3 separate regions of the Homo sapiens genome follow, and all the other regions are linked to region 1. The links come from fine-mapping of genetic effects on gene expression. A gene starts in region 1. Each other region holds a variant in brackets. All regions are shown on one strand. Distances are from middle to middle.

Region 1 (6,236 bases):
TCGAGACCATCCTGGCCAACATGGTGAAACCCCGTCTCTACTAAAAATACAAAAATTAGCTGGGTGTGGTCGCTCGCGCCTGTAGTCCCAGCTACTTGGGAGGCTGAGGCAGGAGAATTACTTGAACCCAGGAGGTGGAGATTGCAGTGAGCCGAGATCACGCCACTGCACTCCAGCCTGGCAACAGAGCAAGACTCTGTCTCAAAAAAAAAAAAAAAAAAAGAAGAGTTTTAAGAAGAGGAGTGCCATTATCAGACTTACATTTTTAAAAAGGTAACTCTCACTGGGTTAATAAGTTGAGGATGGACTAGAGCAGAAGCAGGGAGACCCATTAGGATCTGTGGCAGTAATCCAGGGCCACCATGTGCAGTCATGAGGGTTGTATATTGCACCACTGCAGTGAGATGTGAAAACGTGTTCCTTAGAAATGTACACCAGCCTTGGTGAAAACCATGGAACTGATTAGAATTGGTAAGTCTGGCTTTATATTGAAGGTAGAGTCCGCTACCATTTACCAACAGATTGAGTGTAGGATATGAAAGAAGGAAGAATCAAAGCCATTTCCAAGATGTTTGGTCTAGGTGTAACAAATGACAGTAGTGCAAATGATTAAGCAGCCTTTCTATTCACAAGTGCTTACTGCATTTCAAACCCGAGGACACAAGCTGAGCCCCCGAGTCCTCACCTGGCTCCTCCAAACCGTATCTCCAACTATACTTTTCTCCTCTACTCATTCAACCGTTTGCTACACCATCCCTCAACAAGCCCTGTACTTTCCAATTTTCGAGCCTTGCTCATCCTATACCAAACTGACTGCATCTGACCAAGTCCTAGCTGGTTCAGATAACTCTCCCGAGCAGCCTTTTCTAATCCCCTAATTCAAAAATCTTTCGCCCAATCTCCTCCCTTCTGTGCCTCTGTAACTGCACCTACCTAGCCAGGGTCGTATTCGAGGGATTTCTGTTTATAAACATTCACAAGCCCCCATCCTACCACCAATCCCCACCCGGACTGTGAGCACCCTACAGACAAGACCCAAATGTTGAATCACTCTCTTCTTGCTCCTCCGAATATTTATTGTGTGACGCCTGACAGGAAGTAGAGGCTCTGTAAATGTGTATTGAGTGAATATGAAAGCTTCACAAATTTCAAGGGTCAGCTTCCTTGGCGGCCAGGGATATATACGCCCTATGCAGAGCCCGGCTCCAACGCCTCTTGTAGAAAGAAGGACACTGACCAGGACATTTGCAGCGTCACAAAAGATCCTGTCAGCGCGAGGCCTGCAGGCGGCCCTCCATAGTGAAATATGTGCTTCTGCAACCCCTCAAAGTAGGAACTGCAGGGTGACTCTGCATCAGCTGACTACAGGCAGATTTCCAGGCTGACTGGCTGGAAAAGAAAAAAAAAAAACGCGGAGTTCGACGCCGCGCGCAGCACCAAACACTTCCCCAGAAGGGCGCAGCCTGGAGGCGGCCGCGCGCAGGACGCACGCCCAAGGCGCCTGGGCCGCTAGGGACCGACCGGAGCGCTCAAACCCACAGGGTATCTATCAGGCGCGCGTCAGCACGTAAGCAGAGCGCGAGAACGCCCGAGACGGCGGCGCAGCCAATCCCAGAGCAGCGCTCCCCAACGGCCGGCCGGAGGGCGGGGAGAGAGGGGGGCTCGGCCAGAGCCACGCTTCCCATTGGTTGAGACAGCACCGCCCAGCCAAAGCCCCCTTGTCCTCGCGCGGGTGCGCCGCCTGGACTCCCACCCTGGCCAGTCCCGGGCCCACCACCACTCTGGCATCCCCAGCCTGTCCCCGCGGCTCCTCCTCCTTCCCCGGCCCTGTGGCCTGCCTGCTGTCCAGCATTCTTCCCCAGGGCGCTGTGGCGCGGAGGGAGGACTCCCCAAACCCCGGGAACAGAGCCTTGCGGAGGACCCCGGAGGAGGAGGAGGAGGAGGGACGCGGACGGGACTGGGAGATTCGGTCGGGAAGGGGACAGGGCCTAGAGCCCGGGGCTAGAAGGCAGGACACCTGGCTTCGGTCTGGGCTCGGCCTTTGACTACGACGTGACCTTGAGGACGGTTCCTTCCCTTCGTGGGGCCTGGGTCCCCTTCAGTAAGATGCGCCGGCAGGAAACGATGAGTCGTTTCACCTGGGAGCTGCAGGGCCGCGTGTTTAACCCAGGGCCTCCTCCTGCCTGGCACATTATTCCGAATAATAAATGCCAGATCATGCTGCTGGAGACGCCGGCAGAAAAGCCGAGAGGGAGACTCCCTGGGGTCTGGGCGCGATCGGCCATCCTACCCTTACCCCGCTGCGGCCGCAGGGCTCGGCCTGTAGGGCGCGAGCCCCCCTTCCCCACCCGTATCCCGGCTTCGGAGCTAAAGGAACACGTGAGGCCGAACCAAACCGAGTAGAGGGCGCCAGGGAATCCCGCCCGAGCTGCAGAGACGCGGACCCCTCCTCTTACCCAAAACCAAATGGGCAGGGGGCTCCGCTGCAGAGGGCTCGCCGAGGCTCTCGCCTTCACCCGGCGCCGCGCAGGTGCCCGCTCTCCTGCGGGGAGAGCCGAGGGGGGGCGCTGCCGCAGGGTCTTTCTGGAAGCCCCTCCACCAGCACTCCTGCGGCCTGCGGCCTCCGCCACCCGGACGCTTCTACACGCGAAGCGCGCGCTGGGGCTACGCTGGGCGGGGCTCACGGCGGCGTGGCTGTCGGGGGGCCGCCGAGCCGCCTCCTCCGCGCTGGGTGCCCGGCTGGCGCTCCTCCCGCCCAAGGTGCCCTGATCGCTAGGCTCCCGGTGCGGCCGTCTCGCCCCTAAGCCGGGCGCCAGATCCCCCGCCGCCTTCTCGCTCCCCGACCGCTGGGCGGGGGCGAGGGCCAGGGAGATGGAGCCAGGTGCGGAAAGGGTTGCAGCCTCGCGGGCTGAGGCCGGAGGGTGAAGGCGCCGCTCCTTGAAGTGAGGAAAACTCCGGTGAGGAAGAGGCTCTTTCCAGGTCCTGTGCGTGTTGCTGTCTTTAGAGCTCATTAGGGTTGGTTGGTTTTTAAATTTCTTTTGATCAGATGAATTTATTTAAAGGCCGGGGGCGGTGGCTCACGCCTGTAATTCCAGCACTTTGGGAGGCTGAGGCAGGTGGATCACTTGGGGTCAGGAGTTCGAGACCAGCCTGGCCAACATGGTGAAAACCAGTCTCTACTAAAAATACAAAAGTTAGCAGGGCGCGGTGGCGCACGCCTGTAATCCCAGCTACTCGGGAGGCTGAGGCAGGAGAATCGCTTGAACCCAGGAGGCGGAGGTTCCAGTGAGCCGAGATTGCACCATTGCACTCTAGCCTGGGCGACAGAGTGCTCCGTCTCACAAAAACAAAAAAATTAAAGATTTGCTTCTCAGGGTCTTTAAAAATAAATTAAGAATAGCAGTTTCCCAGAGTTTTAATAATAGAACAACGGAGGGCCATCGGCCACAGATAAGGGTTTCCTCCCAACCCCACCCCACTGCGCTATCGCCCTGCGCCAGCACACCTCAGTTTCCAGGATGAGAAACAGGCTGAGGAGAGAAGACACCAGGACACATTAGTGGCGAAGCTACGCGAAAGGAAAATAAACCTTGGGGCCCCCAAATCACTAGGCTAAAGGGGAAAGTCAAGCTGGGAACGGCTTAGGGCCAACCTGCCCCCATTCTACTCAAAATCACCCCCTGCTCACTGAGATAAATGCATATCTGATTCCCCCTTTGGAGAGGCTCATCAGAAACTCGAAAGAATGCGACCATTTGTCTCTCATCTACCTATAACCTGGGGGCTCCCTCCTTGCTTCGAGTTGTCCCACCTTTCCAGACTGAGCCAATGTTCATCTTACATATGTTGATTGATGTCTCATGTCTCCCTAAAATGTATAAAACCGAGCTGTGTCCCAACCACCTTAGGCACATGTCAGGACTTCCTGAGGCCATTTCACTTGCGTGCATTCTTAACTTTGGGAAAATAAACTTCCTAAATTGATCTGGCTCAGATTTTGGGGGTTCACAACTATGTTTAGGTAAAGTACAGAGAAGGAATGAATAGAATGAAGAGAATGAATGAAACTTGCAAATACAGGAAGATGAAAACAGGAGGAGGGAAGTACTGGCATGATGAAGATTTAAAGAAAACTGTAGACCGGGTGCGGTGGCTCACGCCTATAATCCCAGCACTGTAGGAGGCTGAGGCGGGTGGATCACTTTAGGCCAGGAGTTTGAGACCAGCCTGGCCAATGTGGTGAAACCCTGCCCTTCGTAGTGGATGCTTGTAATCCCAGCTAGGTGGGAGGCTGAGGCAGAAGAATTGCTTAAGCCTGGGAGGCAGAGGTTGCAGTGAGCTGAGATGGTGCCACTGCATTCCAGCCTGGGCAACAGTGGGAGACTGTCTCAAAAAACAAACAAACAAATAAAACTGTTGGCTCTGTCTGTCCATTCTGTGAGCTTCTGGAGAGCTAAGGCTATCTCCTTTATCCCCAGCTCCTGGCACATACAGCCTTGAAGACTGGGAGAATCAGGAAGGGAGGATGCACTTAGTTTTCTGTTCCCGTTTCACAGATAGACTCAAGCCTGGATTTGCTCCAGTGACGGTGTTTCAGAACATTAGGCATATAGTACCACAGGGTTAAAAATAAATCACTATACTAAAATTACGCCTTGAGGATTATGCTTTGCTAGAAAAGTAGTTAAAGGAAGAATTCTTCTTTACCCCAAGGGAAAAAACATAGATCCTGACTCTGAGAATTAAACTGAATTGTAGTCCTATTTGCATAAGACAGAAAAGGACATTTGACCTTTCTGAGGTTGTATTACACATCTGGCCTTACATCTTCCCAGCCCAGCTTTGCTGTGACAACCAGGTATGAACAGGTGTAACCTGAGAGCACCTTGCCTCAGCTGCACCTGGTATTCTGCGTCTCTGGCACTGCAACCTGGGACCCTTGCAGGAATCCGCTGTCCACTCTGACACATGAGTAAACCTGGAAGTGCAAAGGAACACCTCAAAGGACAAACTTTGACCAAAGGGCAGGCAGGAACTGCAGGAAAAATACTCTGCTCTTCCAGTCTTCCAGTGGGCAATTCTGAGATATGTTCTATGCAGCTCCTAAAATGATAGCATTCTGTTTGCCCATAGTAGTGACCGACTTGATCAACTCACGAATACACCCTTGGATGCCATTCTCTTTCCCTCCTTCCCTATTTGACTCTTCCCAGCCCTCCCCTCCAATTCCTTGGGATTTTGTTATGTAGCTTTAAATGATTCCGAACACTTTCACTTTTCTGTGAGAGTGATATTGTTTTACTGTGATTAGAACATGCAGGGAACTCTCCCTAGCCAAGGGAATGTCATGTCACACCTTATCAGACCCCGCATGGGAGCTACTGACCTCAACCACTGGACTCCAAACACATAGAAACCCAGGATTTTGACAGACGCTTGGAGAGCTTAGGATGTGGCGAGGCCACTCTCTGGAAGCCTTGAAGCTGTTTTTGAAGCCTTGTCTCACAACACTGGCACCGCTCTCTAGCAGCAAGAGACCTCACGTATCTTCATGGATCTCCATTGTATTAGTCAAGCTGTCCCTCCCGAGAACCTCTCCTAGAAAGTAGTGCCTCAAACTCTGATTGGACTTTGCATCCACAAAAGCCTGCTTTCCATCCTAAGTGGGCAATTGAACTTTTTTTTTTTTTTTTTTGAGATGGAATCTCACTCTTGTTACCCAGGCTGGAGTGCAATGGTGCGATCTCGGCTCACTGCAACCTCCGCCTCCAGGGTTCAAGCGATTCTCCTGCCTTAGCCTCCCAAGTAGCTGGGACAGGTGCCCGCCACCACGCCCAGCTAATTTTTGTATTTTTAGTAGAGATGGGGTTTCACCATGTTGGCCAGGGTGGTCTTGAACTCCTGACCTCAGATGATCTGCCCACCTCAGCCTCCCAAAGTGCTGGGATTACAGGCATGAGCCACCATGCTCAGCTTCAACTGAACTTTAATAATTGGACTCTAAATGAAATTGGAACTCATTCATTATGTGATTAATGTACCTTGTCTGTTGAGTGTATCCCCTGTGAGATTTGTTCTCATTATTCTCCCCCTTTTTAAGAATTGTGAAAAAGAAAGACCTCTTTGTATGGCAATAAACTGTGTGATTCATGAACTCATACTTTGATCTTCTCCTTATTTTAACCATACAAAACAGATTCATTCCCCAAATAAACTACCTATACACAAGTCCTTGC
Region 2 (6,236 bases), 42 kb before region 1:
GTTAGTGTTAAAACCAGTTATGGGTCTTCCTGGCATGGTGGATAATCCACACGTGGATAATCAAGAGTTGACTATATGGGTTCCTCCCTCCCCTCCCCTTCCACCAGGGATCCCTGACAGAGGCCACAGCGAGACTCTTCAGCGGATGTAGATCATGTCGGAGATGGCTCCAGGCAAGTGGGTCATGATCTGCATTCGCAGCCACCAGTAGTAGTCCATGGGGTGGTAGCGGGTGTAGGGGGTGGTGGCGGTCAGGGCGTGTGTGACAGCATCGATGACAGGGGACGTGTCTGTGGAGCCACTGCTGCAGTAGGTCTCCATCTTGGCGATCTTTTCATCAAAGTACTTCTTGCCGTAGTCCTTGCGCACGACCTCAGGCAGCTCCTCCCACATCTTCTTGGCGATGGCCTGAATGCTCTCAGGGCTGTAAAGGCTGGTGGCAGCGATGAAGTTGCCGGGCTCCACCACGCTGACCTTCACGCCCAGGGGGTACATCTCATAGCGCAGGCAGTCCGAGAAAGCCTCTACCCCGAACTTGGTGATGCAGTACGGGGAGCGGGCCGGGTTGGCCATGCGGCCCAGCATGCTGCTGATATTGACGACGCGGCCTACAGAGGGAGACAGAGGTACCTGCTAAGCCGTTACTGCCCTATGACACAGCGGGCAGAAGTCTGGCATGTCTCTAGAGGCTTGGCTGGAACCACTTCTGAGCCACCCAGGAGCCTTCTCAGTCAATAGGCAAGGCCAGCTCAGGCCCACGCATCAGCATCGGCACCCCTGGTCTTCCCTGGGAACCTGGCTGTGCCAGGCAGGACAGGGGAGGACAAGTGAGTGAGAAGCAGCAGGGCACAGTGTAATGGGCAACACGCAACTGACTCAAAAACCAGATCAAGCCCGATGCGGTGATAATTTGGGGTGAAAACACGAGGGGAGAAGTGGGAGGCGAGACAGCTGTCTGTGTGGATCTGAGCTTTCACTATAGGCAAGGTCTGGTGCTGGTGAGGGAGAAATACAGCCTGAAAGCTTCCCCTTCCCCTTATGGAGCTTAAAGTCCAGCTCCAGTAGTACGACGTGCAGATAAGTAGCACACTAGGGCCAAGTGTCTAGCCACTGACAGCAGCCCTGGCGATGGGGGTTGGAGTGCAGACGAGGAAGTACCTGGGGCTGCAGCTGGGAGGGAGCCCCGGGACAGCCCTGAAAGAGGACAGGACCCGTGCTGTTAGGCCCAACTCCCCAACTCCATTCCACCCTGGTAGGGTGGAGCCTGGGTGGAGACCAGGACCGCCTGGCAAACAGAGCAGCAGGCAGGGGCAGGGGCAGGATTTCTGAACCTGACTTCAGGGCTAGGATATGAGGAGAGAGTCCTGGGCACTGGGAGAGTGTGGTGATCCCCCTCCAAAGGCCACAGGCCCAGCCTGGGGGCATCAGGGGCCTCCCACAGCTCCTCCTGGCCCTGGGAACAGAGGGGTTGGAAGTGGATTGCATTTGGCCCAGCCCGGGAAGCCGAGGCGGATCTGGGACCAGTTTTCCTGGGAGGGAACTCAGCCCATCCAGGTGTGTCCCGGGGAGGGCACTCAGCCCATCCAGGTGTGTCCCCGGGAGGGCACTCAGCCCATCCAGGTGTGCCCCCGGGAGGGCACTCAGCCCATCCAGGTGTGCCCCCGGGAGGGCCCTCAGCCCATCCAGGTGTGCCCCCGGGAGGGCACTCAGCCCATCCAGGTGTGCCCCCGGGAGGGCACTCAGCCCATCCAGGTGTGTCCCCGGGAGGGCACTCAGCCCATCCAGGTGTGTCCCCGGGAGGGAACTCAGCCCATCCTGGGGGAGGCACCTTTCAGAAAGCTCTAAATTTGAAGTCACTGAAGGGTTGGGGTTTCCATCTAAAATCCTACAGCTGCAGTCTGTGTTCATGCTTGTTGTTGCTAGGACTTCACCATAGATGTATGGATCTTACCCTTTTTGCCACAATTGTTTGCTATGCCAGAGAAAAAAATCCAAGTCAATGACTTCTAAAGTGGTTTGCTCACATTTGGCCACCCACATGGTTTGGGTGTTTTGTTGGTTTTCCAAATTTCTAATCTTGATTTTTACTATTGTTCCCTAATACCACAATGATCTCATTTTTTAAACTACGATATAAATAACCCATAGAATGAATATGCCAGATTTTACTAACCACACCTGACTGATACAAAGATGTGTACACACAGCTTTGTGCAAAGGGTGATTCTCTCTATAGATTAGGTGTGCAGAGTGGATGGCTGCTCAACTCTTTAAGCTTTTGCTGCATGGACCACTGACCTCTTACCTGCTCTGCTTCCTCCTCCCCTACCCGGCCACAGCCCCTCTGCCCACCATCACCCCAGGCCCAGCATAGTCCCTGGGATTCACGAGCTCACCTCTGCTGAGTTGTGGACATTGGAGCTGCTGGGACAGGTATTTCCATTCTGAGCAAAGATGAACACGTGGGGCAGGTTCAGGGGCAGGAGGGAGCTCCCTTTCCCACTCACCTTTGGCCCTTCGGATGAGGGGGAGAAAGGATTTCGTCATCCGCACTGTGCCCCAAAGGTTCACTTCTGCCACCTGCTTGTAGGTCTCCAGGCTGGTGAACTCCACCTCCCCGAACGTTGAGATGCCGGCATTGTTAACGAGGCCCCACATGCCTGGACAGGAGAGGGATAGATGTGCATTTACCACATGGGCTTGGCCCAGACATTGCCCATCAGCCTGCAGGCCAGCCTCCTCTCTGCTTCTTTCCTGTGACTTCCCAGCCTCTCGCCCAGTGCTCTCAAGAAACTTTCTAGAGTCACTCAGGAACGACAGGAGGTAAAGAGGCCTAAAGTGCTGACTGCAGCCCTCCCTTGCGTCTAGAATGTCCAGTCCTCACGTCACATCTGCCTGGCTCGAGTCTCTGGGCCCATCATGACCCAGCCTGCCGTGTCCCCCGGCCTTCAGTCTCACCTCACCTCAAATTCCCACTTCCACTCCACTCCACCCCATCCCATCCCCACACCCTGAGTTTGAGTTTCACGCCCCGTTCCTGTTTACTCATCTCTGCCCTTGAGCTTTTGCTCACGTCTTCTCTTCTCTTGCCAGAAGCCAGGGAAATCACAGGGGAGGTGGGCACGAGGAGGCAGCTGTGTTTTGCAGGGACCTCTCTGAGTTCAGTTTGTTGGGGTGCAAAGGCTGGATGGGTCAGAGCCTCAGGACAGAGCTGGGCCCTGCCTCTTTGTTGTGGAAACCCTCAGTGTT[T/C]GGTCTCCCGGGCCGATAGCCCCGTGCTCCTTCCCAAGGCACAGCCTCAGAGCAGAGCTCCCATCCTGGGGCCCTCCCCTGCCTGTGGGAACTCGGCGCTGCTTTATTTTCCAAGTTAATCATGGAAATGAGTTTGTGTAAATGACAGAGTAATTGGTCTCTAGCTGCTTTCCTTCCGTGTTACCCAAATTAAAGCTTCATTCACTGCCCTCTGGTGCCTTCTCCTTCAATTATGGAGAATTAAGGGCATTTATTAGGGAAAGGAAATTGCTGGTTAACAGAGTGTCCATGAAGAGCTCACTCCCACTCTCCACCAAAGCCTTGCGGGTGTCTCCCTGCTCTAGGTCTCACCTGTGACCTCGCTCAGATGCTAATGACAGGATCAGCGTCATCCACGACCCCACAGCTCCCACTGTCTCCCTGCAGACGCGCCCTGAGTCTTCACCTTCTTCTCTTCCCAGGAGGAGCAGCAGGCCACTCCCCACCCGTCATGGCTGACACTTCCACGTCATCTTCGAGACCATAGCCACTGATCCTTCTCTCTCTTTTACACAATTTCAGCTTTTCCACTGCCCATGACTCCATCCCTTCAGTTCTATACACATTAGGAGCTCAACAAATGTGTGTTAGATGAATGAGTGTCCACAAATACCGCATTTCCATATCCCGAAGATCCTTCTGTAACTGTGCTACCTGCTCTCCCTCCCTCCACGCCAGGCTTCCAAGAACTCTATCCTGTAATACAAAGATTAGCCGGGTGTGGTGGCGGGCACCTGTAGTCCCAGCTACTCGGGAGGCTGAGGCAGGAAAATCTCTTGAACCCAGGAGGCAGAGGTTGCAATGAGCCGGATCATGCCACGGCACTCCAGCCTGGGTGACAGAGCACGCACACACACACACACACACACACGCGCGCGCGCGCGCTCTATCCTCTCCATCTCCCTTCCATACCACACTGGGTCCCAGCCCTCAGCTGTCCTGACCACGCAGTCTCCAGGGTCTCCAGGGTGGTACACCAAGGACCTCACCCCCAGTCTTCACTCTCCTCAGGCTCGCTACGATATGAGTACTGCCAGTACTCCTTGAGGCTCACCTCTCCCTCAGCATTAGTGATACCCAGGCATCTCCTGCATCTTCCCTGACACCTTTCTTTCACCTGCCCCCAGATACAAGTGGCCCCCAATGTCCTGGCCTAATCCTGCTCCTCTCAAAGTACACTTAACTCTTAGGTGTCCTCATCTTCTTCATGTTTGTGAATTTTGCAGCCGTTTTGTGTTTGATTCATAACGGACAATATCCCATGACTTAAAATGCATACAGCCCTTTCTCTACCTAAAAATAAAACAATGACATTTGACGCTACTATCCAAAAAAGTTTAATGAAACATGACCTGTGAAAGTGCACAGCCCCTGGATTACAGCTTTAATGAGTGTTGAGAGTGGTGGACCTAGTTGCCATCTGGAATCCTCAGCCAATGTTCTGAATAAACTCACGGAGGCATGCCCGCTGGTTGGGTGACAGCAACTTTCCTGTAACATCCCCAAGATCGCCTCCGCACCAGTGGCCCCTCAGTTCTCCTTGGGAGTCACGGCTCTCTCTCCTCATCCCATCTCCTGTCTCGCTTCCACCTGAATGTCCCACGGGTCCCTGACTCACCCTAACCACAACCAACACGTCAAGTTTCCAAGCTGCCCAAGCCTGCTCCTCCTCTTTGTTAATGATTTTACTTTTGTCTGTGACTCCTCCAGCTCCTCCACCCCTCCCCCACCTACTGAGTCACCCAGTACTGCTAATATTACAGCTCAAGATCAACATGACAGCTGGCAGACCCCTAATCAAGCCCTTTACATTCATTAACTTCCCTGATCCTCACAACCACCCTGGAAAATAGATCCTAAATTGTCTCATATCCGGTTGAGGCAACTGAAGCTCAGAGAGGTTAAGCACCTTGGTCAATGTCACCCAGCTAACAGGCAGGGAGGGTGGGATTTGGACCCAGATCTCTCTGAGGACAAAGTCCCCACGCCCCAGGCTGTTGCTGGTTTCCTCTGCTGGGTCAGTTCTTCCTTCCTGTTTCCACTAGCATTCCCTTGGGTCCTCGCTGCCTGTCTCCTGGGCTGCTGGAGAAGCCTCCTGGGTCTGTTTGTCTCACTCACTCCTCCACCTCCGTCTTCACCCCACCCCTCAGGCAGACCCATCAGTCACTTCCTGCTCTATGGTCTCCATCCCCCCTCAGGCCGACCCCCGCATCAGTCATTTCCTGCTCTATGGTCTCCATCCCCCCCTCAGGCCGACCCCCGCATCAGTCATTTCCTGCTCTATGGTCTCCATCCCCCCCTCAGGCCGACCCCATCAGTCACTTCCTGCTGTATGTCTCCATCCCCTCCTCAGGCTGACCCCCCCACCCCATCAGTCATTTCCTGCTCTATGGTCTCCATCCCCCCTCAGGCCGACCCCCTCATCAGTCATTTCCTGCTCTATGGTCTCAATCCCCCTTCAGGCCGACCCCCCCATCAGTCACTTCCTGCTCTATGGTCTCCATCCCCCTTCAGGCCGACCCCCCCATCAGTCACTTCCTGCTCTATGGTCTCCATCCCCCCTCAGGCCGACCCCCCCAATCAGTCACTTCCTGCTCTATGGTCTCCATCCCCCTTCAGGCCGACCCCCCCATCAGTCACTTCCTGCTCTATGGTCTCCATCCCCCCTCAGGCCAACCCCCTCATCAGTCATTTCCTGCTCTATGGTCTCCATCCCCCTTCAGGCCGACCCCCCCATCAGTCACTTCCTGCTCTATGGTCTCCATCTCCCCCTCAGGCTGACCCCCCCAATCAGTCACTTCCTGCTCTATGGTCTCCATCTCCCCCTCAGGCTGACCCCCCCCATCAGTCACTTCCTGCTCTATGGTCTCCATCTCCCCCTCAGGCTGACCCCCCCCAATCAGTCACTTCCTGCTCTATGGTCTCCATCTCCCCCTCAGGCTGACCCC
Region 3 (6,236 bases), 36 kb after region 1:
TCTACAAAAAACAAAATAGCTGGGCGCGGTAGCGCGTGCCTGTAGTTCCAGCTACTCGAGAGGTTGAGGCGGGACGGTCTCTTGAGTGACAGGAGTGTGTGAAAGATCTTTAATAGATATTTTTGAGAAAAGCTAATTAAGGATCTGATGTATACTACGACCAACTGTATGTGTGTACATCTACATATCTATATCTATCTATAGCTGTATATATATATATAAAAATATATATATATATAAAAATATATATATATATATATAAAAAAATATATATATATATATAAATATATATATATATATAAATATATATATAAGTTTATGCTTACATTTGCTAAGAAATTTTCTAGAAGGAATTACAAGGGAGTTACTAAGAGAAGGGATACATGGGGCAGTTTTTACCTCATACTTCTGTCTGTTCAAATTTGTCAGAGCATTTGGTACTTCAAAAGAAAAACAATAACCGAAAAATACACTGAAATTTCTCAGACACATCTTGTAACAGCCTCTAGCCTCCATCAACACCAGCAACCAGAAGCGTCTCACTGTGCAGGCGTTGCGCCAGGCACTGGGCTACCCAACCACAATCAGAGTTGCCTTTCCAGGCCCATGGAATTTTGTTCAGCCAGTGGCTGCCAGTTAGTTCTCTGTCTTTGTTTCCAAGGTAGCAGGAACCCTACAGAAACCAGGAGAAAATATGTCACACCCCTAAATGTGTTTTCTTCACAGATTTCCCTAGAAGGCTGCCAGCCTGGGCAGTGGGTGAGAAGCCGCTCTGCTGGGTTACACATGGCAGGCCCAGCGCCCTGCAGGCTCAGGGAGGAGCTCTGCCCTGACCCAGCCGAATCTCACCCATGCAGGTGGTGGATCAGAGGACTTTCTGTGACTAGGAAAACAACTCAAAGGTCAGCCCTTCCCAGCAGTGAGTAAACACCCACATCCCCAGTTCTGAGAGAGGCCTGCAGAGGTGGCCTCTTCCCTAGTGAGAAGTCCTCCATGGCTAGTTATGGATTATTGGTCTGGGGGCTTCTGGACTTCAAAGACCAGCTGGATTAATCTCTGTATCCCGGTGCTTGGCACAGTGCCTGGCACATGGGTGATGTTTGCTGAATTGCCATCAGGGCCTGTCTCTTCTCCTGCCACTTTCCACACCTCTGCAAAGAGGTAACTGCTCTTGGGCTGATTCCCTGGAGTTTGAACCTCACCTCTCTGAAGGGGGCATCCTTTTGCAGGATGTGCACTGTACATCCAGGAAAACACACCAGATGAGGAGCTCCTGATGACTGGTTCACACTAATTTTGAGAACTTATCTCAGAAAATTTAGAAAATGAAGATGTCTAATAAAATACAATAAAAATTCTATTCCCCCTCCCCTTCCTGCTCTAACAGAACTGTTATGCTCCCCTGCAGCCATCTCAGGTGGGGAAAGTTTTTTGTTTGTTTGTTTATTTGTTTGTTTTTGAGACAGAGTCTCACTCTGCAGCCCAGGCTGGAGTGCAATGGCACAATCTCGGCTCACTGCAACCTCCCCCTCCCAGGTTCAAGGGATTCTCCTGCCTCAGCCTCCGGAGTAGCTGGGATTACAGGTGTGAGCCACCACGCCTGGCTAATTTTTGTGTTTTTAGTAGAGATGGAGTTTCACCATATTGGCCGGGCTGGTCTCAAACTCCCAACGTTGTGATCCGCCCGCCTCAGCCTCCCAGAGTGCTGGGATTACAGGCATGAGCCACCACACCCGGCCCTGAATGCTTTATCTCCTGGAGTAAATGTCCTCTTTGCTGACGACGGCCTCTTCCAGGCCATTCTGCCACTCGTGTGTCAGACTTTAGGCAGGATTTCATTGATGGACTGACCTCCATAGCCCCTCAGTCTAACAAGGAGACAACAATGGTGCTTTGGGTCTCCAGGTATCAGTTTCAACTCAGTCACTACATCAAGTAGCCCTCCGGACATCTGGGGATTCCTTTTTCTTCCGTGTACGGTCACCCAAGTACACGGCCACGGGTCCCCCTAGGGAAAGACTGGGGGAATCATTACACTCTTTTCTTGCCGGTGTTGCCGAGTTCATTCTTAGAGACCCAGCCACCTCTTCAGTCCATGGATTCCAGATCGGAAAATTGGCTTAGGTCAAAACAACTGAGTAAGGGACTGTAAGTTTGTATTAGGGCTCTGAGCCTCCTGCGTCTCCACTTGTGCCTCTTGCTGGCTGGAGGCGTTAGGCAGCACCTGTGTAGGTTGCCCATTTATTCTGCCCCGGGAGATGCTGTGCTCTGTGGACCACAACTCCCTGTGGGCCGGGCCTGGTTGGCTGCATGACTAACTCTGCAGGTCATTATGACCTCCTGGCATCTGGAAGCCAAAGGCCACCACCTGGCCTCTATGCCTGGGGGTAGAGGGGCTTCATTGCCATGGGTAGCAGTGAGCCCAGCTCTGTGACCAGCTCTCCTGTTTAGTGAGGTTGGTGCCTCTCACCTGAGCATTCCTGATGGTCGTGGTCAATCACCTGTTCTCTGGGCCCACCCCTCATACTTACCCCCACCCCCGGTGGCTCTTCTGGTCTCAGATGACATAGCCATCCCAGCGTGCCCACTTTCCTCAGGCTTTTTGTGTTTTCACTACCATCTTCCAGGGCTACTTAGTCATGTCCGTTGCCGCCATTGACACTGGCTGCCACTTTCTCCGGGCTTCTAAGAGTCACCCTTGAGTTTGTCTCATCACCTGGGGTCCTTACCAGGGTATTAAATTCGGCATCCTGAGAAAGCACCCCAAGGGAACTCTGCTAGGCCCAGGCTCCTTGATCAAGCCCCCAGGAGTGAGCAACCAGCGGCGTGTGCTGAGGAAGCCACGGCCTGCTTGCTAACCTCCCACCTCGTGCGTGCGCTGCCTCCTCACTTCCTTCGTCCTTTACTCTTACTTTCCTGGAACTCACTTCCTTTCGTCCTTTACTCTTACTTTCCTGGAACTCACTTCCTTTCGTCCTTTACTCTTACTTTCCTGGAACTCAGCCCCGCTGCCCAGAAGCACACAAGCTTTGCCTCAGGCTCTGTTTTCTAGGGAAATTGGGCCAAGGCAGAGGTCTTCATGATTTCACATGTTGTAAGAAGGGGGGAGGCTCTCATCCTGGCCCTGGAAGTGGGGGGTGCTCATAGTGAGTCCATCTAGCTAGGGATGAAAACGGAAAACTCAACGTCTATGGAAAAACACAAGGATTTGGAAGCGTCACATAAAGACTTAATCAATACAAGTTCAAACTATAATCCCTCCCTGAAATGACACAGCATTTTTCCACTGGAAGCAGCTGGGGGGCTGGTGCTGGGCTGCCGTATCTCCAGGCAGCAGAGGGCAGGGAAGGAGAAGGGCAAGAGCTCGTACCTCGGGTGTCCTTGGCTCACCGCCTGTGCTCCATTTCTGCATCTCTCGTGGTCCGTAATACTCCAGATCCTGCCACGAACAGGGGCGAGGGGAAGAGGAACTGGGCTCAGAATTGTTAAGAAAGACTTGATTTAGGAGAGCTGTGTCTCCGCACGGAGGTGGGATTGCTCATTAGGCAGAAGCTGGTGACCACCACACCAGGTGCCTTAAGATTTCAAAATCACAGGCCAGGCATGGTGGCTCACACCTGTGATCCCAGCACTTTGAGAGGCCAAGGTGGGTGGATGACCTGAGGTCAGGAGTTTGAGACCAGCCTGGCCAACATGGTGAAACCCTGTCTCTACTAAAAATACAAAAATTAGCCGGGAGTGGTGGCAGGCGCCTGTAATCCCAGCTACTTGGGGGAGGCTGAGGCAGGAGAATCGCTTGAACCCAGGAGGCAGAGGTTGCAGTGAGCCGAGATGGTGCCACTGCACTCCAGCCTGGGTGGCAGAGCGAGACTCTGTCTCAAAC[A/AAAAC]AAACAAACAAACAAACAAATCACAGGTGTATGGAGGATGCACCTGACAGCAATAACTTAAGCATACCCTGAGAATGACCCTAGGCCTAAAAAGAATGTGTTTGGAGTTCTGAGCTAAGGAATCGGGAAATGGGGCCAACCTGGAGACTCATTCCTTATCTGCGAGGGGCATCTGAACCCCCCGCCCATCCTGTGGAATGGAGGCCATAGAGGGGATCCAGGCCCTTTGTTTTGGGTTAAAGGAAGGTTGCCAGGTGGAGGTTGCTAGGGGGAGGGTGCTAGGTGAAAATGCTATATAAACTGCATGCTTTTTACGAGTGGTTGCCATTCTCTGGTCCAGCCTGCTGCCACTGGACTGCCCTGTATGTAAGTCCCCTCAGGAAGCCCTGTGTCTCAGTCACTGGCCCCCAGCCTCTTCTTTGGCGTCTCGAACACACTACCAACGCTACTGCAGTCAACAGGGGTCTGGCACGACAGCAGGGCTTGCTTTTTTTGCTGTTATCGTTGTTGTTGTTGTTTTTGAGATGGAGTTTTGCTCTTTTCACCCAGGCTGGAGTGCAGTGGCGCGATCTCAGCTCACTGGAACCTCCACCTCCCAGGTTTGAGTGATTCTCCGGCCTCAGCCTTCCAAGTAGCTGGGACTACAGGCACACACCACCACGCCCAACTAATTTTTTTTTTTTTTTTTTGTATTTTTAGTAGAGACGGGGTTTCATCATGTTGGCCAGGCTGGTCTTGAACTCCTGACCTCAGGTGATCCACCCACCGGCCTCCCAAAGTGCTGGGATCACAGGCACGAGCTACTGCACCTGGCCCCAGGCTTGCTTTTACACAAGTTCAACCCCAGACACCTTCCAAGAATGGCTTCGTAGTCAGCAAGAGAGGAGGCACCCTATAGCACTCAGCTAGAGACAATATCACACCATATCCAGCAGGAGAGAGAAAGGTCGATCTTATGCCATAGGCTGACAAACTTTAAAACAGCTGTGTAGAAGGGCCCTGGTGACATAGGTTTGAAAGGGGTCGCTGCATTTGTCCAGTACAACATTTAAAGTCTGTTCTACTGTTGAGACTGATTTTCTTTCCTTACTGTCTGGAGCATCGTCTTATTCACAGGCCCGTTTATTCATCATGCGGAAACAGATGACCAGGGAATTCAAATCTAAATGATAGGTCTATCTCTGTATCTCAGTATTGAATAATAAAACCAATGATTTCTTCAGGGATTCCAAATCAGTGTTTGATAAAGATACAGGACCCGAGGGGAAAGAAGGGATCCGGAGCAAAAGAAGTTCAGATTAAATTTTCACTTAGCGTAAGATGCCCCTGACTCTATATCATGGTCCTCAAAGGTCAAAAGAGTAAAGAAAACACAAACTAGGACAAATGAGAAGGGGCCTATCCCCTAATGCCCGGTTATCCAGAGAGAAGGCAGGAAAACAACAGCTGCTGGAGAAAGTGAATGATGGTTCTCAGCCCTGGCTGCAAGTTAGAACCGCCAGGGAACTGTCAAAAATGCTAATCCAGACCGGGCGCGGTGGCTCACACCTGTAATCCCAGCACTTTGGGAGGTCGAGGAGGGCGGATCATGAGGTCAGGAGTTCGAGACCATCCTGGCCAACTCGGTGAAACCCTGTCTCTACTAAAAATACAAAAAATTAGCCGGGCGTGGTGGCGGGCGCCTGTAATCCCAGCTACTTGGGAGGTTGAGGCAGGAGAATCGCTTGAACCTGGGAGGTGGAGGTTGCAGTGAGCTGAGATCACACCACTGTACTCCAGCCTGGCAACAGAGCGAGACTCCGTCTCAAAAAAAAAAAAAAAAAAGCTAATGCTTGGGTGCCACTCCCAGAGATTCTCATTTAATGGGTCCAGGGTTTGGCCTGGTCGTCAGAAATCTTACACCTCCCCAGGTGATTCTAAAGTGCAGCTCCAGCACTGTTTTGGAGGTAGACCACTTCTGTTCCTGACGCTCTCTTGTCTCCATCTGTCACTCTCCCTCCTATTCTCCCTCCCTATGGGCCGCAACAGCTTGCTCCAGAGCTCGGATGCACGACTGACCCATTTGGGGAGTGAAGTGAGCTCTTCCCGCTGTGCCCTCCTGTCTACCGGTGCAGGAACTCCTTCCACTTCCTCCCTGTGATGTGAGTAGAATGAATTCCAACTCTCCTGGCAGCAAGTTGCATACAAAATAAAGCTTGAGGGAGAGCACTTTGAGTAGTCCCGAAAGTTCCCTCGTGGAAGAAAGACAGCAGCAGAAGAGGGCAGTGTGAGGGGCACACAGCCAGAATTCCATTCATTTCCTTTAGAGTCTATATCTAGCCAAAGAAAAGCCCTCACAGGGGAGAATCAAGGG

Evidence for each region. PIP is the estimated chance that this variant, and not a neighbour inherited with it, causes the effect. A credible set is the group of variants that fine-mapping cannot tell apart.
Region 2: its variant is the best candidate, but not a certain one, in a credible set for the expression of BDH1 in nasal epithelium (TOPMed, PIP 0.62).
Region 3: its variant is the best candidate, but not a certain one, in a credible set for the expression of BDH1 in liver (GTEx, PIP 0.71).

What each region holds. Positions count from the first base shown.
Region 1 is chr3:197,553,325-197,559,560 of GRCh38, forward strand. BDH1 (3-hydroxybutyrate dehydrogenase 1) reads right to left here and starts at 2,644. Exons shown (of 8, transcript NM_203314.3): 1 at 2,457-2,644; 2 at 1,238-1,389.
Region 2 is chr3:197,511,757-197,517,992 of GRCh38, forward strand. BDH1 (3-hydroxybutyrate dehydrogenase 1) reads right to left here. Exons shown (of 8, transcript NM_203314.3): 7 at 2,508-2,660; 8 at 1-608. The coding sequence ends at 139. Among named protein-coding and RNA genes, the nearest start is that of LINC02012, 5.2 kb to the left of the region's middle. RefSeq lists an enhancer at 1-533. The variant T/C (reference allele first, on the strand shown) is at 3,250.
Region 3 is chr3:197,589,721-197,595,956 of GRCh38, forward strand. No RefSeq gene overlaps it. Among named protein-coding and RNA genes, the nearest start is that of BDH1, 37 kb to the left of the region's middle. The variant A/AAAAC (reference allele first, on the strand shown) is at 3,884.